4 linked regions of the Homo sapiens genome follow. The protein of the gene in region 4 purifies or fractionates together with the protein of the main gene of each other region. This does not show direct contact. Each region holds a gene or a part of one and is shown on either strand. Other genes may lie near its edges.

Evidence for each region.
Region 1: the proteins of DAPK1 (region 4) and MYO1D purify together in Homo sapiens (affinity purification with mass spectrometry; 2 studies listed by BioGRID and IntAct, with this or other methods). This does not show direct contact.
Region 2: the proteins of DAPK1 (region 4) and SVIL purify together in Homo sapiens (affinity purification with mass spectrometry; 2 studies listed by BioGRID and IntAct, with this or other methods). This does not show direct contact.
Region 3: the proteins of DAPK1 (region 4) and CAPZB purify together in Homo sapiens (affinity purification with mass spectrometry; 2 studies listed by BioGRID and IntAct, with this or other methods). This does not show direct contact.

What each region holds. Positions count from the first base shown.
Region 1 is NC_000017.11:32,874,115-32,881,906, forward strand, and holds the start of MYO1D (unconventional myosin-Id), read right to left. Parts: upstream 3,011-7,792; 5' UTR 2,759-3,010; coding exon 2,664-2,758; intron 1-2,663. UniProt on the Homo sapiens protein: Unconventional myosin that functions as actin-based motor protein with ATPase activity. Plays a role in endosomal protein trafficking, and especially in the transfer of cargo proteins from early to recycling endosomes.
Region 2 is NC_000010.11:29,526,970-29,533,998, forward strand, and holds part of SVIL (supervillin), read right to left. Parts: intron 6,490-7,029; coding exon 5,560-6,489; intron 5,204-5,559; coding exon 5,033-5,203; intron 4,320-5,032; coding exon 4,285-4,319; intron 3,700-4,284; coding exon 3,638-3,699; intron 2,876-3,637; coding exon 2,736-2,875; intron 88-2,735; coding exon 1-87.
Region 3 is NC_000001.11:19,475,540-19,482,568, forward strand, and holds part of CAPZB (F-actin-capping protein subunit beta), read right to left. Parts: intron 1-7,029. UniProt on the Homo sapiens protein: F-actin-capping proteins bind in a Ca(2+)-independent manner to the fast growing ends of actin filaments (barbed end) thereby blocking the exchange of subunits at these ends.
Region 4 is NC_000009.12:87,703,849-87,709,145, reverse strand, and holds the end of DAPK1 (death-associated protein kinase 1), read right to left. Parts: intron 3,015-5,297; coding exon 1,782-3,014; 3' UTR 512-1,781; downstream 1-511. UniProt on the Homo sapiens protein: Calcium/calmodulin-dependent serine/threonine kinase involved in multiple cellular signaling pathways that trigger cell survival, apoptosis, and autophagy.

The sequences.
Region 1 (7,792 bases), on a different chromosome or scaffold from region 4:
TTCCTCTATAAGGTGTTTTGGAGTCAACCTAAGGTATCTCTCTCTCTTCTGAACTTCCAGAACAATTTCTATAATTACTTGACAAATAATCACCTAAGCTTTATAAGGCTTTTATCTTCTCTTTCTTTTCCTTTCTTTTTTTCTTTTCTCTCCTTCCTTCCCTTCCTTCCTCTTTATCTGTCTCTGTCTCTCTCTCTCTCTTTGTGTCTCTGTCTCTCTCTGTTTTCTTTCTTCTTTTTCTTCTAAGAGACAGGGTCGTGCTCTATTACACAGGCTGGAGTACAGTGGTGTGATCATAGCTCACGGCAGCTTTGAACTCCTGGGCTCAAGCAATCCTTCTGTCTCAGCCTCCTGATGTTGTTTTCTTGAACTATTCTTTAAATCAATAGAAAATTCCACCTTTCTCCAGGTCTTCATTGAGATGTCACCTCTTCGAGAGGTAAGCAGCACATCTTGTAGTTCTTTGGATACTCCTAGCTTATCTCCTAGAGTACCTTGCACACAGTAGAATTAAATTGCAGCATTCGGCCGGGCATGGTGGCTCACACCTATAATCCTAGTGCTTTGGGAGGCCAAGATGGGAGGATTGCTTGAGGCCAGGAATTCAAGAACAGTCTGCTCAACATAGCAACTCTAAGGGCCCATCTCTAAAAAATATAAATATAAATATAAATAAATTGCAGCATTCTCTTCTGTACACATAGGAGTTGTTAGGCTCACCTTAGTAATCTATTTTGAGATTCAAACTTCACACTTAAGAGACTTAATGCTTTAAAAAAAAAAGCAGAAATTCTAAGTGCCTTCCCTCAATTTACTTTTTAAAAACCACAAGAGTTTTAATTCTATTACAGAGGAGTAGTCCTACAAACTAATGTAGCCCTGTTAGACTCTATGCCTTCAATTTCAAATTCTGAAAATTCTGCAAAAGCTCTGGCTAAGCCCATGTATTTGCTGGAGGTGAAAGATGGAGGTTAAAATGAAAGGCTTCATATTCAACTGTTACTACATGGTCTTGTATACAGTATGTACATAATAAATGTACCAATGTCTGAAAAACTGAAATGATTATAACTGAGAGTGACAAAATTATAAAGGCATTTCTCAAAGCACACAACTTATTTCCTGTGGGGGAGAGGAGTAGAATCTCTTAATTTAAAACAACCTTAATCTATGAAATTGCTATGTAACTTACCCCTTTATCTATTTTATGTGCACTTGGGAAAACTTAAAACAGTTTTACTAATATGGATTTGCCAGGCACTAATCTTTGAAGTATGTATACACATATTATTAATAATTCATTTAACCCTCAGGACAACCCCAATCCTACAGACGGGAAGACTGAGGCACAGAGAGGTTAAGTAACTTGCTCAAAGATCACAGCAAGAATGCAGTGGAACTAGAATTTGAATCTCAACAGTCTGACTCTTAATCACTATGATAATGGGTATTGGTTATAGCTGATGTAGAGGTATATCATTTTGATTAATATTTGGGGTGATTTCTATAAAAGTTGTACATCCAAACCTTGATCAGAAATGTAACATCCTATCATTATGCTGGTATGTAATCAACCTGATTGACCCCTGTCAACTGGATTGACAGGGGTAGTTAATAATGAAATTAGGGTTAAGCACCCAAGCCTAGATTATGACTTTCACTTTATAAGCTTAAGGAATGATGTTTAGCTATAAACCTTAGAAGAAATGCAGCCAAAGCTTGCAGGGAAACATACACACGCACACCAAAACTCAGCTATTTTGAAATTCCACTTACTTTAATGTTTAAGTCAAACTACTTTAAAACTGTTTACATATTACTCTATCAAGGGTGAAATAATCGCATGTAAAGGGCTTTCTAAAACAAATCCACATCTTGGAAGCCCATTTTGGGGCGTTGAGTTGTGACTACGTTCTCAAGGATGTTAATAACACAAGAGCTCCATCCACTAACTCCTTGAAAAAAACCAAAACCATGAACGTCTTGTCAAATTCAGACAGTTTATCTTGGCACTGGCAAGTACAGCAGTCTCTTCGATGTCTGGAAACGTGTCTAATTACGTTTAGAGAGTAACTAAAAAAATAGCCAGTGTCCCGGAACAGACAGCTCAGGGATCACTCCATAGCATCCTGAATGACAGGATGGAACTACGCCAGGAGGAAAAAAAAAAGAAGGGCGAAGAAAGAAAGAAAAGAAGCAAGTGTAAAGCCGGGATGAGACGCCAGCCTCTCTCCAAAATAATCCTCCAGTCCTCCTAGGGCCTTCGGGGCCACCGCAACTCTCGTTCAAGTTATTTCCCTTCAGTTTCCATGAGGTCACCGGCCCGCCCACATCCCTCACCTGGCGCGGGGAAGCGCGCCCTCCCGCGCGGCACACCCTCTGCACCTAAACCCCGGACAGCGCCCAGGGCTCCCCTCTCAGGGAAGCGCGGCCCTTGAGCTCGACACGCCCCCCGCACCCCAAAGCGGCCGCACCCCAGGGGCGTCCGCTCTCGGGAAAGCGCAGCCGCGGAGCTTGGCAGACCCCCGGACACCGCAGCCCGGCCGCGCCTCCATCCCTGGAGCTTGGGCGCTCCCGACACCCCGGATCCGGCCGCGCCCCGAGGCGCCCCCTCTCGGGAAAGCGCAGCCTCGCGCCCCTGCGCGCGGCCGCTCCGCCCTCACCTGAGCCTGAGGTTGGCCATGAACTCGGGCATGGAGACGGTGTCCATCAGCACGAAGTCTGCCTTGCCGAATTCCAGGCTCTCCTGCTCCGCCATGGCGCCAGCGCGGGGGCTCAGGTGGGCGCGCTCGGGCCTCCGGGGCCGCTCCGTGGGCCCGCGATGAGCTCGGGAGGGGCCGGGGCGAGGCCGCGCCGCGAGGCTACGGGGAGGGGGCGCGCACGCCGCTCGGCGGGTCCGGGCCGGACAGAGGCCGCCTCGCTGCTCCTCGGCGCCTTCTCGGCCGGCGCGGCTCCGAACGGGACGCACCCGACAGTTTCCGCTCCTCCCGCCGCGGCTGCCGGGCGCTGTAGGGGCCGGGACACCGAGACGGAGACGGCAGCGGCTGGTCCCGCCTCCAGCCTGGGGCTCGTCCCGGCTCCGCCCCGCCCGGGCCTCCCGGCTCCGCCCCTCCCGGCCCACTGAGGAGCCCGCCCCAGCCGCGGCCCTGGCCGCCGCCTCTTCACCTGGGCGGCGCGCACGCGCGGGTGGGCGGCGGGGACGCGCGCTGGGCCGGGCGGCGGCAGCTGGGTGGCAGCGCCCCCTGGGGACAGGCGCTGGGATCTCAGGCGGCCAAGAGGATGGCCGCCTGCCGCCCACACTTGGTAGCTGCCAACAAAGTTAGAAAAGTAGTTCGTGGAGCTTTTCGCGAGGACAATTCATTATGATTCTGTCACCCTGCTCCAAAACCCACTCCCGCCTCTCTACTCACACCCTGCCCATTCTTGAAGTGGTGGTTCAAGCACAGACTGAGAGGTAATAATAATGGCTAACATTTTTGGGGCACCAAAAATGCCCAGAGCTGTTCTCAGCGCCTTAGAGAACTTTTAAGAAACTTGCCATACGACTAGGAAGTGGAGCAGCTGCGGTTTCACGCAGGTCATTTGACTTAGGAGCCGCAGCGTTCAACCACGTCTGACTACCTCCATTCTTCAGTGGCCCATTTTCTCTTCCACTCATCCGAGCATGTCATCAGACATTACCTTATATGATTATTAAGTTTTTAATATATCTTTGTATCATCTCTCCAGGATTATTGCGGATGTCTTGAGCATGGGACCATTCTTTTTGCATCCACCAAATAACTATTGTACTACTTTGCATATATAAATATGAAATCCATACTGGTTCAGTGGAATGAAGTGAGTTGTAAGTAGTCTCCAATTTATTGATACATTGGTTGAGCTTGGAAAATTCTTTTTGAACTCAATGTATTTTCCCAAAGAAAATATACTACAAATGACTTTCTTTCTTTTTTTTTTTTTTTTCTTTTTCTGGAGACAAATTCTCCCTCTGTCACCCAGGCTGGAGTGCAGTGGTGCAATCACAGCTCACTGCAACCTCAAACTCCTGGGCTCAAGCAATCCTCCAGCCTCAGCCTCCTGAGCAGCTGGGACTACAGGTGTATGACACCATGCCCAGCTATTTTTTTTAAATAAATGACTTTCTAAGGTATCTACATTTATTCAGTCCTGTGTTTCTGTTAGGACATCTTCTATTACAAAATCTACGAGGAAATCTAGAGGCCTCCAAGGACCTGGCTGGGCTTCAACTCTGGCTGAGTTTGAGATGAGTAAACCAGACTGAAGGACCTTGCCCAAGGCCTGCTTCAGCTGCCAGCCACCCACACTTGCTAAGAGAAAGGAAAGGAGCTTTGTCACCTCCTGAGGGACTGCCTCTGCCATCAGAAAACCACCCCAATCCCTGGCACCAGCAGAGCTGGGTTGCATCTGACTACCGTTAGCAGCTGTCCTTCAGAAGGAGGAGATCCACCTGTCTCGATATCAGTGTCCTCATTTGTGGAATAAAAGCTCTGGAATAAGGTAGGACTGTCCTATGGTTGGGTCATTTGTGGAGGTGTCGGTCAGTGGCTAAGTAGGTTATTGCATAGGGTATGGTTGTATTCCTAATGTTTGTATTGGCATGTTTTAACATAAGCAGAACTGAACTTCAAGAAGGAAAGAAAGAAATCTCAAACTGTATGCACTTTGGAGCATCCAGGGACCACACCCCAAAACCTTTTGGTAAATTATATATGTGTGTTCCCTGAGCTCTGTAGGTGTTAAAAATTAGGGCAAAATCCCAGGTACCAGGAAAAGAAACATCACGGCTTGCAGATGATGAGAGAGTTGCAGAAATTGTACAGTGGTTAGGAGCTATGGTGGGATACAATGTGGTTTCCAAATGGCCAAAGTAAGAGATCCTCATTTTAATCAACATCTTATATAGGAACCCAACATATAAAACACATATACAACATATGCAAAGGGTATTTTATTAATTTCTTGTATAAGTCCAAATTAGTATAAAATTAGGCATTGATGCTCTCATGATGAACCCAAATCTGCTCAATGGGGCTCACTATTAGCCTCAGGATTCCAGTTTACTTTTGTATGTTGTTTTCATTGTACTGTGTCAAGCAAATTCTTGTTTGTATAACTAAGCAGTAATTTGTTACCCATACAACTTTACATTCAGCATTTCTAGGCCAATGTGCAGTTACAACATTATTAATCAATGACACACTTGAGCAAAGTTCAGGTATATGCACAGCCGGCAGGAGAGACTGAATACTCTGGTCTGCATTCAGTCAAGGTAACCTAGAGCAGATTAGCTCATTATGAATGTTCTTTGTGATAAAATTTGAATAGAAACACATTTGGAGATGCATGTTTTTGTTACAGTTTAAAATATACAAAAAATAAAACAAATAAAAGTTTATATCCCCAATCATGAGACACACAGACACCATGAGCCTCCTGATATGGTCTCCTGAAAAAGACACATATCATTTACCTGCTAAAAATACGTAAATGGAATCTAATCATGAAGAAGCATCAAACAAACTCACATTAAGGGGCATCCTACAAAACAATTGACCTGTATTCTTCAAAAATATCAATGATGTGAAAGACAAAGAGGCTGAGGCACATCACTATTAAAGGCAATGGGTGATTCTGGACTGGATCTCCAACCAGAAAAATGTAAAGGACATTGTTGGGATAATTGGTGAAATTCAAATATAGACGCGATGTTAGATAGTAGGATAGTATCAATGCTAGTTTTTCTGAACTTGATCATTTTACTGGGATTCTGCAAGATAATGTCCTTGTTTCTAGCAGGTATCTGCTAAAGTATTTAGGAGTAAAATGATGTCTCGAACTGTTTGGCAAGAATAATAAAAATAATAAGATGAGGAGGTGGAAGGAGGGCGTGCATATATATTGGTAGACATATAAATGATTAAAGCAAATGATGCAAAATACTAACAAGTGGTAAAGTCATTAAAAATATATGGGACTTTTGAGGGGATTTTCTTTTGTACTATCCTCACAACTTTTCTGTAACTTTGCAATTAGTTTGAAATTTATTCATTTATTTTGAGACGGAGTCTTGCTCTGCCGCCCAGGCTGAAGTGCAGTGACACGATCTCGGCTCACTGCAACCTCCGCCTCCCGGGTTCAAGCGAGTCTCCTGCCTCAGCCTCCTGAGTAGCTGGGACTACAGGTGCATGCCACCATGCCCAGCTAATTTTTGTATTTTTAGTAGAAACGGGGTTTCACCATGTTGGTCAGGCTGGTCTCAAGCTCCTGACCTCATGATCTGCCCACCTCAGCCTCCCAAAGTGCTGGGATTAGAGGTGTGAGCCACCACACTCGGCCTGAAATTTAAACTTAAAAATTAAATAGTAATCTAAAACTGTGCTAAATAAAAATTTTTAATTTAAAAATATTAAATAACACTTAGAAATCAAAGTCACATCAGAATTTTGCAAACCTTCCAGAACTGAAGAACCAGCAGATATTTTTGAAAACCCTGGTCCAGGGTACCTCTTAGCTCTATTTGGCATAGATGTGCTAGGAGATTATAAACACTGAACAGGTAATTCTAAAAACAAAAATAATTAGATGTCAAATATACCCATATGCCCCTGAGAAGGTGCATCCTGTTCTCTGCCTGAAGTTCTCCCCGCCACCCCACCCCTCACTCCTATGACCTAGCTAACTTCCGCTCATCCCTCCGCTCTCAGTCTCAACATCACTTCCTCCAAGAAGGCTTCCATAATCTCCTGAGTCAGAATTGGCTGTTCCTCCTCTGTGCCTCCTGCAGCATCCTGGAAGTGCTGCCCCCATTACAGTACTAAATGCCCTTGAGCCTACTGTCTGTCTCTCTCACTCGTTTGTAAGGGCCATGAGGGCTGGAAGCTGTCTTTTCTGGTTTTTGATGTAAATGTAATTCTGGCACCTCCTAGCATAGTGCTAAGAGATGAAGTGCTTAATAAACTGTTGCTTGATAAATGAATATGGAATGGTCTGTGAACCTATGGGTCATAAAATGTGAGACTGTAAATCCACCCCCCTTGGTAGTTTTCTGCATTGCAAATTAGTCATTGTACAACATTAACCTCAGTCTCATCTCCTGCCCCGGAAGCAGATCTCAGGGCTGTGTTTATTTCTCCCCTGGGACCAGGCCTGCACACTGTGTGTTCACACTGAACAAAAGCTACTGTTCCAAAAACCCTTCTGTAGTTACCAGCCACTGCAGAGGGTCTACTCTTGATGATCCACGAAAATCAACCCTGAATTTTCCACCACAAATGTTTATTCCCATTCAACTTTCCCAGAATGTTTCTGGGCTGCCCTGCCCTCCCTCCCTTTACCAGAGGCTTTGCATCCAAGGAAGACAACTCTTTCAGCATGAGTCTGGCAAGACAGAAATAAGACAGCTAGGAAAAAAACAACAACAACAATAGTCACACAGCATATTCAAAGGGCATTTTATAAATTTATTTTATAATCCCAAATTATCACAGAGCAGAAGTAGAAAGGCAAACATATGTTGCAAAATAACTTCATTACGTACTTACAGCCATATAGAAATGATTTGGAACTCTGCCTTAGAAAATATCCAAAACATACCTCCTCCTCTTTACTGCATGAGCCTGGATTTGAACTAAGAATGATACATCAGAAATAGCATATGTACTTTTCATGGCTTCTGAAGCCAAAAAATTCTTTAAGTATAAAGAGACCTGACAGTTGCCTCTCTGATGTCATTAATGACTTTTACCCACCTGTAGAGTCCCCTCTCTCC
Region 2 (7,029 bases), on a different chromosome or scaffold from region 4:
TGCACAGCGCTCCTAGCTACAGTGGGGCTAGGAAGTCTCGCCATTACAGGGTGGGTGCCCCCAGAACACGAAGCGGGGATAGGTTCACTTTAAAAGCAATTGCCAAAGAGGAAACATTCATAAGGAGAGAGAAGAAAAGAAGCATTAAGGACAGCATAGTTTTAAATTCAGAAACGTTAAATCAAAAATTTTAACAGAATATTTTGCTAATTATTTTTGGGGAGAAAAAATCACGAAAGAACTTCAAAAGCAAATACAAACTCAGGAAATAAGAGATAGTGGCTACCCAAAGCAAATGGGGTAAGAATAGGTGTTCAGAGCTGGGAGGATTTACTCTGTCTTGAGAATACATGTCTTGGTGTAAAAAAAATAATAATTCAAAAAAGCAAATATTAGCTATCAAAAAATCAGTAGATTATGTCTGTGTTTTAGAATATTGTTTCCAATCTAATTTTTTTCTTTCTTTTTCTTTTTTGGAGATGGAGTCTGTCTCTGTCACCAGGCTGGAGTGCAGTGGCATGATCTTGGCTCACTGCAAACTCCGCCTCCCGGGGTCAAGTGATTCTCCTGCCTCAGCCTCCTGAGTAGCTGGGATTACAGGCGCGCACCACCACGCCCAGTTAATTTTTGTATTTTTATTAGAGATGAGGTTTCACCATGTTGGCCAGGATGGTCTTGATCTCTTGACCTCGTGATCCACCTGCCTCAGCCTCCCAAAGTGCTGGGATTACAGGTGTAAGCCACTGGGCCCAGCCTTTTTTTTTTTTTTTTTTTTTGACAGAGTCTCACTCTGTCGCCCAGGCTGGAATGCAGTGGCGCGATCTCGGCTCACTGCAGCCTCCACCTCCTGGGTTTAAGCATTTCTCCTGCCTCAGCCTCCCGAGTAGCTGGGATTACAGGCGTGCGCCACCATGCCTGGCCAATATTTTTGTATTTTTTAGTAGGGACGGGGTTTCACCATGTTGGCCAGGCTGGTCTTGAACTCCTGACTTCAGGTGATCCACCCACCTCTGCCTCCCTAAGTGCTGGGATTACAGGTGTGAGCCACTGCACCCGGCCTCAATCTACTTTTTAAAAGTATCAGTGTTCTTATACAATCTATAGGCACATCAAGGTAGATTTATTGAGCCTTAAAATGGGATTAATTTTTCTTATATTTACTGTTTTGCTCCCATGGGTATCTGCCTGTTATTTTACACCAGCCATTCAAATATTTCTTTTTTTAAAAAACAAACTGATTTGCAAAGAGTTCCTAATGAGTGCAAGGATATACTTAGCTACAAATGCACCAAGAAACTGAGGAACAACTCGGGGAGGAACTGTAGGCAGCTGATCTAACAGCAGGTCTACAGAACGGGGCACTGACATAGAGGCCTTTTGGGATGTCAATAACCTAATGGGATGAACTATTTTTTTTTCCAGGAAGGGTGTCTGTGTGTCCAAGGTAAGCACAAAACCAATTAACAACATCAACAACAACAAAACTAGGCTGGGTACAGTGGCTCACGCCTGTAGCTCCAGCACTTTGGGAGGCTGAGGTGGGAGGATCGCTTGAGCCCAGGAGTTTAAGATCAGACTGGGCAACATGGCAAAACCCCATCACCACAAAAAATACAAAAATTAGCCAGGTGTGGTGGTTGGGCCTACAGTCCCAACTACTTGGGAGGCTGAGGTTGGAGGGTCAATTGAGCCCAGGAGGTTGAGGCTGTAATGAGCCAAGATGGCGCACTGCATTCCAGCCTGAGTAACAGAGTGAGACACTGCCTCAAAAAAACAAACAATGCCCCCCGCAAAAATAAGAAAATTTTTCACTTGATTGAAGCAATGATCTCTGAATGAACTACTCTGGGAAATTAATTCTGAATATATTGAAACATATTATTCAAAACAAACTTCCTATTGTTTGGAAAGTTATCAAACTGCAATTTAATTTTTAGAAATTTCTGGCAATTAATCCCAGCACTTTGGGAGGCTGAGGCATGGATCACCTGAGGTCAGGAGTTTGAGACCAGCCTGGCCAACATGGTGAAACCCCGTCTCTACTAAAAATACAAAAATTAGCTGAGTGTGGTGGCACATGCCTGTAATCCCAACTACTCGGGAGGTGGAGGCAGGAGAATCGCTTGAACCCAGGAGGCGGAGGTTGCAGTGAGCCGAGATCATGCCACTGCACTCCGTTCTGGGTGACAGAGCAAGACTCTCTCTCAAAAAAAAAAAAAAAAAAAAAAAAAAAAGAAAAAAAGAAAAGAGATTTCTGGCAATTAAGAACAAAACAAACCTTATCTTTTAGAGGGGCGTACTGGGATATTTATGGATGAAATGGTAAGACCTCTAGTGTTTGCTTGAAAATAGCACAGGAGGAAAGGGGAAATGAATGGCACACGGGCTGAGCATCACCGGCCAGGAGCGGGTGACCGTGGAAGCTGGGGTTTCATCACAGCAATCCACCAAGTTTCATGTTTCTATTTTCCGTTGTCAAAGAGATTTTTAAAATATCAATATGCAGAGACAGAAACAAAATAGAACAAAAACTCCTTTCAAGTTTTTCTAGAAGATACACATCCCATTACAAAGTTTAGAGAGACCACAGTAAACAAAATCCCTTAGTACTAACTTCTCTGTGGCTTCTAGCTAAATCACCTCCCCAATGCCTCATTTTCATTGAACACTCTTTAAATGTATTTTTTTAAAAAAAGACACTATAGACAAGGCTGAGAAGTCCTGTGGGCACTTACGTGGCTGCGATGACCACCTCTTCAGTGGTGATGGGCTGGGTGAGGGACCTGTCCTGCAGACGGCGTAGCCTCTGCTCCACAGCTGTGTTTCTTGAGCGTCGCTTTGGAACATTTTGTTCATCAAAAGATTTTTCCATCTCCTAAGATTAGAAGTATTGTGGAACCCTTATAAATTCAAGGAAAGAGCTGGGCACGGTGGCTCACGCCTGTAATCCCAGCACTTTGGGAGGCTAAGGAGGGAAGATTGCTGGAGGCCAAGAGTTCAAGACCAGCCTGGGCAACAAAGTGAGACCCCCTCATCTCTACAAAAAATGCATAAATTAGCCAGGCATGCTGGCACAGGCCTGTAGTCCCAGCTACTTGGGAGGCTGAGGTGGGAACATCACTTGAGCCTGGGAAGTTGAGGCTGCAGTGAGCTATGATCACATTGCTGCACTCAACCCTGAGTGAGAGAGTGAGACCCTATCTCTAAAAAAAAATTAAAAATAACAAAGAAATTCAAGGAAAGGAAATGGGGGTAGTAAAAATTCTTCACTTTGTTCTCCTACAGGACCTACAGGAGGGGTCACTAATGAGCACCTCGTATTGTTGTCAGAAGTGTACACTCATGCTGTGTCCATGAGGTGGCCACAACCAGCCAAAGATTAGGAAGAGAACAACAGGTGGGCCAGAGGCAGGAGGGCCTTAGCATGCCCAGAGGTGCATGAAGTAGGCTGGGTCCACAAGATTCCCCCTCCCTAAGGCTTACAATTTTTATTTTTTTTGAGATGGGGGTCTCACTGTGTTGCCCAGGCTGGTCTCAAACTCCTGGCCTCAAGTGATTCTCCTGCCTTGGCCTCTCAAATAGCTGGGATTACTGCACCCAGTAGGGATCTCTATTCAAGCACGTCAGCACAGCTTACCCTGAAAAGCAACCTCTTGGCGGCGACGCTCAGCTTGGCTCGTTCATCCACCTTTTCTTCATCTGCAAAAAGCCACAAATTAAAAACTGGACATCATTAGAGAAGGTTAAGTTCGGTCTCCAAAAAGTCTTTCAGGGCTGACCTGGAAATCTTTGAATACAACAATAGGTGCACTAAAATAATAATTGGTGGTAGTTTCCCCTTGCAGGGAGCCCATTCTTTCTGCTCAGTGAAAAGGTACTAATTTCCCTTGCAATTCAACCCAGCCAAACCAAAGCAAACTCTGTCCAGGGATTTCTACTCTAACGTTTGTCTGATCGAGATTTCATGAATATATTTTATGGGGGGAATTTCTTTTAGTTTTAAATAGTAGCAGCAGCAACAACAAGAAGAACCTGCTCCTTTGGTTTGAATTAGTTGTTTTTACATTGGTCACTGTATGATTCTCTAACTGCTCTCAAAAAGAAGGGAAAGCTTGTCTGAAAATTTCAACTAGATTTTATCATATCCACAGAACGAAAACCTGCAGCAAAGGGAGACACTGTTATGCTCCATCATCTTACTCTCTCAAAAAGCCAAAAACCTTATTATTAAATCCAGTCTAGATGAGATAATAAAGAAGAAAAAAAAGGGAAACAGGTACTTGCCATCGACAGTTGGCGTTTCTGAATGTGAAGTGCACCTAGGAAAGACATTAGCAAATAACAATAATACATTAGCAGGTGGGAGCAGAAGATCGAAATAAAACATCATACTGAAAGTAAAAATAAAAATGCAATTAAATTCTTTTAAGAAATAACCTCCTGGTAGCAATTCTAGTTGTGAAAACACACATACAGTTGTGAAGCAACACTGTGGAGCGTGTGTGCACACAATCCCAGCCAAGTACACACCCCGTGGAGAGAGACCAGGCACAAGAACAACTTGTTAAACACCACTGATGACAATTTTCCAGACAAATCTTACCATTTCTATGCAATAGTATATGACACTTCAGTATAAAACTCAAATACAACAAGTAGATGGACATTTATAAAATGAATATAAAATTCCTCAGTTATTTTCACTGTAAAATCTGGTGAATATGCAATCTGGAGTCTAATTTAACAAGGGGTAAAAAACATTAAAACCATTAAATAAAGAAAAATAATGTTTCTTACTTCTTATCATCTGAATGCAATGTAAAATTGTGTATGTATCATAATACCGCTGTAAAGGCTAATATTCTTTAAAAAGACTTTTAAATAAGCCAAATAAATAACGCTTATAGGTTAGATGGAACAATTATGGAATCGCCAACATCCTATATAAATAGCGTCAAGACCGTCAGTGTGGTAAAACTCCTGTGTCATTGCCACGTTCCTGGATGAGGAAACTGCGCATACGCATGCCTACCTATCCGATTCCTTTCGTTCTGCTGAAGTTATAGGTTGGGTTCTAAATCTCTCGGAAGTTTTTCTACTTTCACCAGGAGAAAAATAGCGTCTTGGTTTCCGGGACCCTCTCTCCCGTTCCACACCGGTGGGCAAGCCAGGTCCTTCAGCCGACCTCTCCACCCGTGATTTGCTTTGAGAATCAAAGGGCAGAGAGTATAAGGAAGGCAAACGAAGACAGAGAAAGAGAAGATGGCAAAGGATTATGCATCTCCGTGAGTCAAGGGACAGACACCACCAAACCCCTCTTCATGCCTCTACCATGCACGTAAGGAAGGAGACATTCCAGACACCCAATCCACTAGTTCCCCATTAGTAGGCAGAAGCAGAGTGGTAGTTTTTGAGCCATTTTCCGCATAGTCGCCCTGCACGCACTTGTGAGCTAAGCTAATATGATTCAATGCAGAACACAACACAGGTCGAGGAGTGAATCATTCTGCCAGGGACGTGCAAGTGACACAGCTGGAGGGCGTGTGAAGCATCACCTACAGTTCAGGTCTCCTGCAGGCGTTGGCAGATGCCAGGAACGCACTTCGGAGCTGGGCGACAGAGACTTTTGTGTCCAGCATGCTGATCTCCCCATAAGGCCCTTCGGTCTTGGAGCTGGGCAGCTCCAGCTCTCTCCTGGAAGCTGGGTCCTTATACTTCAAGGCCTGGAGCTGAGGGGGGCCTGTGAAATCTGACAGAGAGCGGGTACGGACCTTGCGCTTTTTCGAGGCTTCCCTGTTGTGACCAGTTGGTTTGGCGTCTTGGGACACAGGCTCACTTTGAATGTAGAGAACCATCTCGCTCCTGCCTGTCCTCTCAGTGGGCTGGTGCGGAGCTTGAGGGGGTTGTGCCACGTTTTCCAGTTCCTTCTGATGCTCTAAGGTGACTGTGCTCACAGCAGGCTTACCAAAGTCCTCATTTCTAGAGGGATCTTCTGGGCTTCTCACTAGCCCATCACCCTCCAAAGCCAGTAGGGTTTTCTTGCTTTGCTCGAGAGCTTCAGTGAAGCACACATCTTCTTCTTTTTCTTCTCCTTCTCCTTCCCCTTCTTCTTCTTCTGCTTTTGACTCGCAGACATGGAGAACTGGGCTATCCCTTCCGTCACCTTCTAGAACCGTCAAGCTGGGAGGTTTGGGGACATTCTGGGTGGCTGATGCTACCCAGCTACACTCAGATGCATTTTCTGGGGTTTCTGGCGTCACTAGCTTGGCGGTGTGACCGGTATCTGCGGGTTGGACATAGCCACGGATTGGCTGTCGTGTAGAGCCTGCTGCCTTGCTGGGGACCCTATCAAAGGCTGAGTGCTCAGACTGAAATGACACGTAATGGACTGGCGCTGGCTGGTGTCTCCTCTGAGTTACGGACTCTGAGGCGAGTTCAGGGCTGTTTCGAGCACTTTCCTCTTTCACCAATTTTTCTCTAACTTTAACTCTTTAAGAAAGAAAAAGGATTTAAGTTGCAAAGTGCAGTAACGGCCTCACAGGAGGAAAGCATGCGTAGATCACAGATTACCAGTGAATGGAAACTGACCTGAGAGAGAATAACTTGTGAAAAAGCATTTTGGTGTCTAATGTCAACTACTTGTCAGATGATCCTGAGTTGAGTTTCCAATTTGCATATGTATGCCCAGGAGGTGCAAAACTAACTCTACCCCTGTAAAAGCTGGCAGGGGTCAGATGCTATCCTGGGGGAGAATGGGTCCCTTCTGACTAAATAAATACCCAGAAGCCACAGAAAAATGCGTTAATATCCACCACCAGCATGCATTAGGGCATAATGAGCCTGGTCCCTTGAATCAGTAAGCTTTCCTCATGTACACGCCCAGAACACGGACTGTGGGGGAAGGTTCCTGGCATACAGACACCTATTGACCAAACGCTGTAATTTCATTGTCGTCTGAAAATGTAAGAGCACTCACGATTATTTATGCTTTTTATTTAGTTCAAGATACAACAATCACCTCTCTTTTAA
Region 3 (7,029 bases), on a different chromosome or scaffold from region 4:
AGAGAGCACTGCCCCATCTCGGGGGCAGACCCCGCTCGGCTCCTCTGTTCTCGACTGAGAGCCTGACACTGACAACTGGGTAGGCCCTAGGAGAAGCCAGGCTTGGCCGAGAGCTCAGGCCCAGAGATCTGGACATGGCTAGTCTCACAGTGGAATTGCCTGGCCCCAGTGTTTAGTCTGTATTAGGTTGAACCACATGAAAGGCTGGTTAATTCAACCCTTTTTTACCTAGGAAAATGGCAACTTCATATGGTTCAACCTAATGGAGGGAGGGATTCTTACATTTATTAAGGACCTACTGGACATTCAGTCATTCATCTAACACCTGTAGAGCAATGGCTGTGTCAGGGCCAGTGTGTAACACTGCTTCAGCACCCCAAGACTGAGAGCCAGGATTTTTCATCTTCCCTCCTAAGGATAAGAAACAAACTTACCAGGCAGAACAAGGGTAACCAACTCGATCTGCCTGAGCTCAGGTAACTACTAAAACAGGCCAATTTTGGCCAGGCATGGTGGCTTCACGCCCATAATCTCAGCATTTTAGAAGGTCAAGGCGGGAGGATCCCTTGAGCCCACAAGTTCGAGACCAGCCTGGGCAACAAAGTAAGACTCTGTCTCTAAAAAATAAGTAGATAGATAGATAGATAGATAGATAGATAGATAGATAGATAGATAGATAGATAGATAGGCAGGCAGGCAGGCACTGTGGCACATGCCTGTTATCCCAGCTGGCAGGCACTGTGGCACATGCCTGTTATCCCAGCTGCATGAGAGGCTGAAGGGGGAGGACTGCTTGAGCCGAGGAGGCTGAGGCTACAGTGAGCCAAGATGGAACCATGCACTCCAGCCTGGGCAACAGAATGAGACCCTGTCTCAATCAATCAATCAAACAGGCCAATTTTGTCTTTCCTCTCAGAATCCCTGCATCTTACACTGTATATGGTGACCAGGGCTGGGATGGGGCTTCATAGGAAAAAGCCAAAGGATCCTGCAAGGCTTTGTCACCCAATAGTCCCCATGGAGGGCTGTCGCAATGATTAAGATGTGCTGCTGCCACTCACGTCACAGGCAGGAAGAGCCAGGGACACTGACACTACTGCACAAAGAACCGTCCTGTCCAGTAGGCCAAGCCACACAGTGGCCGACGCTAGGCTAAGACTATCTCGCCCTTTCAGCTGAGTGGCTATCTTTTGGAAAACAGATTGCAGTTCACAAAGTTCCATCTCCTTGCATTTCAACAAGTGGAACCAAAAAAACCTCCTAAACAAAACCCAGACCTCTTCAGCCACTGTGGCTAGACGTACAGGGGAACCTCTCGGCCCCAGTTTCCTCATCTATAAAATAAACATCCCCATGGGCTGGTGCCAGAGAGGCAGGAGAGGGGAATTCCATCAGCATGCGCTGAGTGCGGTGGACCTGGACCTCCATGGCAACTGCCATTAACTAGCTGGGGGCCCTTCAGCAAGTTACTACACCTCTCTGAGCTCCGGTTTCCTTATCTGCAAAATGAGGAAACAGACCTCACAGGGTTGGTGTTGAGAGAATTACAGACAATGACTGTGGGCATCCGGTAAATACTGGCAGAAGGAAGGGGCCACTCTGTGAGTGAACACTCAATACCAGCCTACAGACTGAAGGTATCCTTCATTTCATGGCATCCCCTGATGCCTGTGCCATGAGTGCACTCCTCAAGACCAAGAATGGACTCTGCTTAACCACACCCCAGCCCATCCTCTCTGCCTGAACAAGGTCTCAAATCTCAGGACAACCAGGGGTCCACACCACCCTGTGCCCAAAAGAGATTTCAGGATAGAAGGTGTCTGGAGGGTATACACTGAGGACATGACAACAGCTCACATTGGAAATTCTCAGCAGAGGAACTAACAGCCAAGCCTGGCCGCTGCTCTTTTGGAGTCTGAGTTCCTCAGTGTCTCAAGACTTTTCACACCAGAAGGATGTGGTGGATTAAGGCTCCTCCTTCCAGTTTCTGAGCACAAAACTGCAACGCAGGGAGCCCACTCATGTGAAACCAACGACAGCCCATCAGGGTCAAAGCCTCACGACGGAGAAGCCTTCAGCAGCAACACTCTACCTGCCAATCACTGCTGCAACTGAGAAGGGAAAAGGGCACCGGTACCACCGGAAAATGCCACTGGCTCAATTCTAATTGGAAGCTCCAGCAGATAGGGTGCAATGCAAAAGCATCTTTTCATAACTTTTTTTGAAAGAAAGATGGGGTCTTACTATGTTGCCCAGGTTGGCCTTGAACTCCTGGGCCCAAGCGATCCTCCCACCTCAGCCTCCTGAGTAGCTGGGACCACTGACACACACCACAGCACCTGGTTTAACTTTCTATTTTAAGTTAAAGTACTTCACTTGGTAAATACGATGCCTGAATCCACTTACTAGGGCTCTGAGACAGCAAGCCCAAACACTGTTAAATAAGATACCGAGCCTAACTCAGGAGCATCATGCTGAGTTCAGCACTAGAAGAGGAAGCTGCACAGAGCAATTGAAGCAGAGGGTGGAGAAGTGCGGGGTCTGAGCCAGTGGTAACAACTGCTTCCAAGCTGCAATGTGGTAAGAGCTCTTGAGACCAGAAACCCTGGGCTGCTGTTTTCAGCAGTCTGGTGTTTAAACAGAATGAGCCCCTTAAGACCACTCTCCTTGGGCAAGGGACTCTACATCTTGGAGTCTCAGAAGAAGGAACTAGCACCTGCCTTCCAGGCTGGTTGGGAAGTTAAATGAAACACCACCTATCATCCATCCATGTTAACAGAATAACCACAATAATAAGAGATAACACTCCTACTGCACTTACAACGTGCCAGGCATCGTCTACACTTTCCACACATAAACTCAGTCCTCACAATCATCACTACGTGCCAGGTGAATGGCAACCACCAGGGTTGTTGCCTTACAAGACACGTGACGACACAACTGAAAACCTAACACTAGAAAGTTGTAGGCAAAGGCTCCTGTTCACAAGCATCCAGAGATGTCAGAAACATGTGGGGTGACCATAGGAGGAAGCACGGAAAAACGCAGGCAAGCAGCCTCCCTGCCTGTCTGACGCTGTGGACTTCCCCAGGCTGGTTCTGCACTCACTCCTGAGTCTTTCAGAACTTTGGACATACTTGCTTCCACCCGCTTCCTCCATTTAACCTTAAGACTCAGATGGCATATTCTATTAGGTCTACCTGACTGCTCAGTAGACATCCACGGAATGAATGACCCGATGGAAAAAAATCACTAAAGGGAGCATAGCGCAGTGCCAGGACTGCCAGGTGGGCCTCGGTTTCCTCACCTGCATAATGAGGGTGACATGAGAATCTGCCTCGTAGGGCTGGCTGGAATATTAAAAAGTCATCAGTCAAAACTAGCTCCTGGCCAAGTACAGTGGCTCATGCCTGTAATCCCCAGCACTTTGGGAGGCTGAGGCAGGCAGATCATGAGGCCAGGCGTTCAAGACCAGCCTGGCCAACATGGTGAAACCCTGTCTCTACTAAAAATACAAAAAATTAGCTAGGCATGGTGGTACGCACCTGTAGTCCCAGCTACTTGGGAGGCTGAGGCAAGAGAATTCCCTGAGTCTAGGAGACGGAGGTTGCAGGGAGTCGAGATCGTGCCACTGTACTCCAGCCTAGGTGGCAGAGCGAGACTCTGTCTCAAACAAACAAACAAAAAAAAACTAGCTTCTGTTATTCCTACAGCTGCCATGCAGAGCCCGCCACCCCACCATCTCCCTCAGCAGACTGGTGTCTTAGGCACCAGAACCTAATGCTGTGTGCATCAGGCTGAACTTGGTGCCACCTGCAGTCACAGAGTCACTGGCTGGATGGATCACTGGGCTACCCAGACTGAAATCCCCATTCAGTTGTTAACAGGCTCTCAAGGCTTTGCAGACACCACTATCTAGGATTTAGACTGACCTGAAATAGCTGTGTGTCAATGATAAACTGTCCAATCAGAACACCTACATGGGACAGCTCTGGGGCAGACCCCCTCAGCTCCAGAGGTGGTAAATCATTCCGTGTCACTCTGCCTTTATCTCCTTCCACCATCCCTTCCTTTCCACACCCACAGCTGCACAGTGGCCAGGACCCTCATAAGCTCACAAGCTGATGCTTGTGGAGGCCTCTCTCCCATCTCTTTCACCTCCCAGGCCTCCTGCATGCACAGCCAGAGGGCTCTTCCTAAAATACCACCGCTCTGCCAGCCTCCTCGAATTTCTACCTGCCCTGTCAAAAATTTCACTGGCTCCACACTGTCCCAGATCTAATGCAAACTCCTTAGCTTAGCAACTCAGGCACTCCACAACTCACTCCTGAGACTGAGGCACCCCATGGGCTCGCATCTACTGCTTGTGTGACCACACCCCCTGACCTCTGCTTTTGTGCCAGTCCCCTTGACCATACCCCACCCTGTCCTCTCTGCCTGAGCACACTCTTCCCAGGCTTCATGCCCAGCCCCCAAGCCGACTGCAGGCTGGAGTGGTCTGCAGGGCTGCGTGGAGGAGGGGGAAATGCAAGCCAGGCCTGCAGGGATGGGCAGACCACAGCACCCATGGGTCCCTGGCTAAGTCTTTTCTAGTACTACTTCATTCCTGCTGCACTTGGCTTTTTGGACGCATCTTGCCTCCCCCTCCCAGATTAGAGGACAGGGATGATGGCTTCTATTTGTGTCCCTTATTCTGTGGTATGCAGAATAAGACATGCAACAACCACAGCTACTGTGTGCCAAGCACTGGAGTAAGTACATTACAAATTTCACCCCTACTCCCCATCTCTATAAAATGTTATCCTCATGCGACGGAACAGGAAAACTGAGACCAAGGGAATTAGCCGCCTCACTGACAGTCACATGCTGAGTGGCAGACAGGACTCAAATCCAGATGTGCCCAACTGCAGAGACCATGTTCTGTGGAGCAGGCAGCCGCCTCTCAGCTCTCACTCAGTGTTTATGTAGCTGGCGCTAAGTGCCAGGCGGCCAGTGCAAGGTGTGGGGTACTCAGAGGGAACCAAACAGACAAGGTCCCTGCTCTCACAGAGCTCATATGCTCTGTCCCCAGCCCTGTCTCTCTTCTTCCAAGCCTGGAAGAGGGCAGGAACCCTCCAGTCACAGGGGGTTCCACTGGCACAAACAAGGAATTCGGGCCTGACATATAGCATGAGGCTCTGGCAACACATGGTGCCCAGCTCACAGTGAGCTTGTCTTTAATGGAGAAAAGAGCCCCAGGCTCTATTAGGTAAGTTGTGCGTTCAAGGCACAACCCAGAGCCAGACAAACTCCAAAGCAGCCATCGGCAGGCAGTACGGAGTGGAGAAAAACGGTTTGCTCTGGAGTCAGAAAACCCAATTCCTCCACTTAGTAGCTAGACAGGGACTAACCATACACCCCTTTGCACACTTTTGGAAAATGGTGATAATAACAATAGTTAATGTTTACATCACTATGTGCCAGATGCTACTGGATGCACTTGACAGATATTACTTAACCCTCATTACGACCTTATGCAGAGGTACTGTTATCCTAAAGCAGTCTGGCTCCTAACTCTATTTTCTTGTACTATGCTGCCTCCAGCCTAAAGTTGAACCTACCTTGTCAGGCTGTGGTGAGGACCGTTCTAACAGAGTGCATAGCATGTGGCTGGTGCTCCATAACCATTAAACCTCCCTTTCCTTCCACTGAAACATGAATCTGTGAAAGCCTAGGTCTGGAAATAGCATATGGCTCTAGCTGGTCCCAATATGGGTGATCTTGCAGTTGCATCCCCTGGAATTCCACACCGCACCCTCACTGGTGGATCTGCTGCAAGGGGAAATGGGACAAGATCCTGTATTTACGGGGCCCTCTGCTCACTGTGTTCTGGAAAACACAGTGAGTGGGGTCCAGCACATGACTTGGGCTGACAGGGATCCGAATCCCAGGCCTGCTGTTCACACCGGTCACTCAAGCTCTCAAGCTTCAGGTTCCTTGTGAGTAAAATGGGGGCTGGGCTATAACCTAAGTCATGTTTCTGGGTCACAGCAGATCCTCGGGTACCCGGGTTGGACAGGCTGGACAAAGCTACCCAGGCTGGACTTCCAAGGTACTGTAAGGTTTCATTTCGGGGCCCCAGAAAGCCTTGGCTGTGCAGAGGAGCGGACTGCGTGCACGTGCAATCCAATTCCACCCAATGGCAGACACAAGAGAAGACACACCCCAAAAGGCCTGGGAGTGGAGCCTGGCACAAGCCCCCAGCTTTCTCTTCAGTTTCCTGCCATAGCTCATGCAGATGTGCCTGCAGGTACACTGAACAAGGCTCTTTCCCCCTTAAGCTTTAGGTAACGATGACATCCCCACCCCTCAACAATGTGAGCCATGAGGGCAGAGATCCTTGTCTTGCATCCTCAGCACATAAGCACCACAGAGTAGGCACTTAATACACAAAAAGCTGAATTAACATTATCCTGTAGCTGCAGGTACCCCACAACATGCCTCAGTATTTGCCTAACAATAAGCATTTCCCAGCCTGGAGGGAGGGCAGGCTTCTAACGGGCGAGGCACCTGCCCTGCCACCATTTCCCTGTGGTCAGTCATGTCCTGTTCCCCACCTCATGGAATGTAAAAGTATAGGATGTCTGAGTTATAAATAGGAGCATCTGCTTTCAAAGACACGGCTTATCATTTCCTTAATCTCAAGCCACTGATCACTGCCTACTTTTTATAAGCATGCCACCAAAAAGAGGCCAGGTGGGCTTAAATGAACAGGGCTGTATAGACAGACAAGAGGGATGTGAGTTGAACAATGTGTCTTATCCACATCAAGAGACATTAATGTCAACTATGTTGTTTCACCTTGTAACAATACCAAGTTCCCATCAGCTCCTGCCAGGCAAAACCATCTGTGAGCTGGAGCAGCAATTCCTGAGGGGGCCTCCCTAGTCCCCGTTCCTGCTAAAGCCTCACCATCATCATAACTAAGAATAATTCCCAAGTCAGAAACTGAAGCTGTGTAAGGAACGGTGCTCTGAAATTGTACAGCAC
Region 4 (5,297 bases):
CAGTCTCATCCTTTGTAGACACACCTATGTCTAGTTTTAATTTTATTCATCAGGACTTCTTTTCTCATTATGAAAGTTAATCATGTTTATTGTGGACAACTTGCTTGAAACATAAATGAACTATAAATGTAAGAAAGGCACGAAGGTCTTTTTGCTGTAGGTTTTCTCTTCCTCCTGGTGCCATCCCCATCATTTTTGTGTAGAAGTCGCAAAGCTTCCTCTGTTCCCTGTTGCCAAAACTAAAAGAGTCAGTTTGGTTTTTTGGTTCACCCGAGAAAAATCTAAGGGGCCTGTTTTATTTACAATGGGAAGAAATGTGAAAATTATCTGAACTCTTTTCACTTTCCCACACCATTCCTAATTTGAGTAATAATCGGCATCTCAATAACCCTGAGAGTTGAGGTGTAATGATTTTCTAGGTTTTGGACTGGGTTGTCCTGCTATGTGGGGTGACAACAGTAAAACCACAACAAGTAAAAAGAAATCCTTTTGAATTAAAGATCAAAAAAACTAATGCAACGAGCAACAGTTTATTTATAAAAAAAGAAAAAAACAAACAACTTTTTAACGACATTTTATAGATTAAGTAAAAATACCAGTATTAATATATATGTATATACATAGTGCATATATATATATACATATGATATAACATTAACATTACATGCTTCTCAGGACAGAAGAATTAGGACATGTTCCCTCCTATCAATTTAAAACTCGATCACAATTTAAAATCATGGAAGAAAACTTGCTTCCTTTATTTTCTGCTTTTAGACTTCAAGTACAGGAAGTTATGAAACCAGGATCTAAATGTGGAAACCATCTGCTATGCACCAATTATAAGGGACTGCCACAAATGATGAGTCAGGGGTCTTCTGAATTCTTACATAGGTCTCTGTAACCCTACAACTGTGTCAACCTTCTACCTGAGATGAGAGGGAATGATGAAGCATGACAGTGTGTAGGTTTCATGTGGACGTTCACATTGACATTGGAACAAAAGCAAACGGAAAAATGTCTTCCTAGAGCAACAACACTGATCATAAAATCACCCTGGAGGAGGATTCCCTTCTCCCCTTTCCTTGCCAAACAAAACAGAAAAACTGTCAGAAAACAATACAAAACAAAACTCAGGGTGAAGCACCTCTGGCGATGATCAGCATACAGCAAGGGACAGAGAGGTAGCGTTTCCTTGGTGACAGCTCCTGGCTGACTCCGATGATTTCAAACACACCCTCTTCTGCAAAAGGCACTCACATATTGTCTGTTTATAAATCATACAGTGGGATTCCATACATGGGAGTTTCTCCTACAAATATAAAAGAGATAAGCTGAGGAAATGGTATAACAAAGAAAAGCGTATAAGAAATACACATTTTGGATAAATATGCACTTTTCTTTTTTAAAGGACAATCAATATAGTAGTTAAAAAAAATGTCATTGAAAAGTTAGGAATTCCAGCAAAATTATCAGTAAGAAGCAAGGTACTGGAGGATGAGAGATGGAGTCCAAAACACTGAGAGGAGGTACACTAGCTTTTCAAGCGGCCAAAGTAAAAGATCTGTTCTGCTCTTAAACTGCAATGACCATCCACAGACAACGGAATGAGACGGGGAGGGAGGTAGCGGCAGAGAAACAGGTCAAGCCGGAGGGAGGAGTGGCATCCCCCTGGCTGTGGGTGCAGGAAGAAACACCCTCAGCATCTCCAAAGGGAAGGATGGGCTACATCACCCCCTTGCTTCTGCAGTCCAAACAGACCCTGCCCAAGCCAGAGGCTGCCCTCACCGGGATACAACAGAGCTAATGGAATTGTAAGAGGTGCCGCTGTTGCAGCTCGAGGCATAGGCCTCCTGGCCATTGCCATCCAGGTTGATTTTGAACACAGAGGATGCCTTCAGCAAAAAGTCTGCGGCATCCCGGCGACCCAGCTCCCTCAGTTTGGACATGAGGGTGCCCACTGTGCTCTCAGGGTAGGTGGTCCATTCCCGCAGCAGGGCGTGGAGGGGGCTGGGGAGGAAATCCTTGGGAGCCCCGTTACTGGTGTTGTACTTTGCCACGAGGTCAGGGAGGCCTAAGTTCATGGCGAGAAGGCACCAGTCCTTCCCCAGGGGGTCGGGCGGGTCCAGCAGGCGACTCAGTTTCCTCCGAGTGAGGAGGTTCAGGTCTGATGCATGGATGTCCATGCCGAGGCTGGCCTGTGAGTAGACGTCGTGACACCCGAAGCACATGATGCTGCTGAAGCTTTCCTTGTACCCCCCCATGGTGTTGGTCAGTGAGGTTTCCTTCAGAGTCTGTGCCCGGAAGAAGTCCCGTGGCTGGTAGATCATGACGGGCTCATGGTGCTCCCGCAGCTGCTGGGGGCTCAGGTAATGCTTCACGGTCAGGAGCCCTGGCAGCGTGGTGGCCATGACGTTCTCAATGGTGCTGCACACCGAGTCCAGCAGCAGGCAGCACTTGATCTTCTCCGTCTCCAGGCCGCGGACCTGGACCTCAATGCCCTGGCCGTGGTTGACCAGCAGCACCAGCAGCTCGGCCCCACGGTTGGCCAGCTTGCAGCCATTCACCCACAGGCGGATGTCCGCGTCGCCCTCTGTGCTTTGCTGGTGGATCCACCGGCACAGGTTCACCTGGACCTTGTGAAAGATGCCACATGGGAAGGGGGTGAGGTGTTCCACGGGCACGATGCGCACGCCACCATACACCATCACCTCGTCCTCCTCATCAGCCCAGGAGCGGTGCAGGTTGTCTGTCTTGATCAGGGCTGGGACGTCCACCATGGTCCCGCTGCTCAGGTCCCGGGCGCAGATGTCCATGGCATCGAGGATCTGCAGCAGCTCCTCCACGTCGCTGTCGGGCACCAGGCGCTGGATGTCCTCCACGGTGTAGCGGCCCCGGTAGTGGTGCAGCGCCCGTGGGGTCTCCACGGACAGCAACTTCCCCAGGACGTTTGTGCAGAGCCAGCGGGGGTCCAGGAGCAGCACGTCCTGAACTGTTTCACTTTGCATGATGTTGATCTGCGGGGGGACAACAGAAAGTCACGCTTAGGGACAGAGCCCTGGCCAGGTGCACCAGCCACTTAGAGCACTAAAGGGCCTGATGCCGGCAACAGAGGCTGAGCAGATGCTCTAAGGAGTGACCCAAGGCCATTCCACGTGGATGCGTCTCAAAAACCAAACACCGAGTGGAGAAAAGCAGCTTGAAAATGTCAGAATAGAGATTCTGAAAAACAACTCCCCTGAAGTCTTCAAAAAGGCCAGCGAAATGAAAGAAGAAAAAAAAATGGGAGATGGCAACCAAATGCAATGAGTGATTTTAGACTGGATTCTGAATCCCAAAATAAGTACATAAATAAAAATAGCTTTAAAAGAAATTATTGGGACCAGTGGCAAACCCTTGTATGAGGATGATATATTCAATCATAGTACTATATTAATGTTATGTTTCTGGAATCATCAATTATATTGGGTTATGTGGGAAAATATCCTTCTCCTTAGGAGATATAGGCTAAATTATTTAGGGAAGAAATGTCATCATGTCTGCAAAATAAATAAGTAAATAAATAGAAAGGAAAGGAATCGAGCAAATGTAGCAAAATGTCAACAACTGATCAGCTTAAATGTAGTAGGCTGGGCACCGTGACTCATGCCTGTAATCCCAGCACTTTGGGAGGCCGAGGCGGGTGGATCACTTGAGGTCAGGAGTTTGAGACCAGCCTGGCCAACATGGTAAAACCCTGTCTCTTCTAAAAATACAAAATTTAGTTGGGTGTGATGGCTTGTGTCTGTAGGCTGAGGCAGAATCACTTGAACCCAGGAGGCGGAGGCTGCAGTGAGCCGAGATTGTGCCACTGCACTCCAGCCTTGGCAACAGAGTGAGACTCTATCTCAAAAAAAAAAAAAAAAAAATTAATTAATTAATTAAAAAAATAAATAAATGTAGCCTATATGAGAGTTCATGGTACTATCCTTGCAACTTCTCTAAAGGCTTGAGAACATTTTCAAAAAAGAGTCAGAACATTCTATTATTATACCATTATGTGAATGTTTAACACACACACATAGAAAAGGCCTGAAAGGATATGCTGCCATGATAATAGTTGGCCTCCGAGAAGGGGAGAGAGGAGTGAGACCAGAGATGATGGCCCAAGGGGACTTTAGCTTTTTGGTTGTGTTTATTTCTTAAAAAAATAAAAAGAAAGGAAAAAAAAGTGACAAAAAACAGAAGGAACTTTCCCTTTATGGAAGAGTTCTGCTTCCTTTCTTGGAGAGTGGCCATCGCCCTGGACTCCCTCACTTGGAGGCTCTGACCCCACCGGTGACCACACAGTAATTTCCTGCCCACAGTCTGGCTTAAACCTGAAAGATGCCCCCTGTCTAAGAGTCTATTCAGAATTGAACCTAGGTTGAAAATTCCTGGAGGGCAGAGCCAATATTGATCTAGTTCCTGATACAGCATTTGCTGGAATACCATTTGCAGTTTGGTCCTAAACACTGCTCATCGCCTCAGGCTCAGGAAAGACGAAACTGTCCCATAGTGGAGGAGAACAGGGAGCTAAGACAGTCAGCTAAACGTAGTGTGGGACCCTGGGCCAGAAAACAGAGTCAGAAGGGCCACTGGGGAGTTCTGAAGATCTGCAAATTAGATACGGAAGGCAGGTCTGGAGGAGGCCCGGGGCCAATCAAAGTCGGGCCACACAATGTAGTTCCTGCTGCCTAATTACCCTCCTTCTTTACATCTTCATTTACTTACTAAACTCTCAAGGGCAAGCAGGGATGTAATGACAAATAAAGGAGACTATATGATATGATCTAGAAAGTTGCTGGTCTACTACTAGAAAGCAAGGGACTCCTGTGCCAAAGGAGTTTAGAATTAGAATTGACACATTTTTTACATCCAGCAGTATCTTGTCATCTAAGATGTGGTCCTTCACCTGTGTTCTTCCTTGGATTCAATCACTTTAAAGTATTCCTGGATGAGTTGGCAGATTCTCTGGCCATTTAACTGGGAGTTTAAAGGCTGATGAAATTACTGCCCGGCGACTCCAGTTTTCAAGGTCACTGGCTTGTGGATTCAGGTTTAGTTTCAAGAAATTTGTATGACTCATACAAACTGGCTATAGGGCCAGACCTGGCACCTGAGATTGGGGAGGTAAGCATCTGGCTTTTAATAATCTCAGAGCTGCTTTTAGTTGCAATATTCAGAACCGCTCTTCTTGGCCCACACTAGTTCATGTAGGCTCCCAATTTCACATGGTGGAGAAACACGAAGGCACTGCCCCCGTTCCTGGGACAGGCATA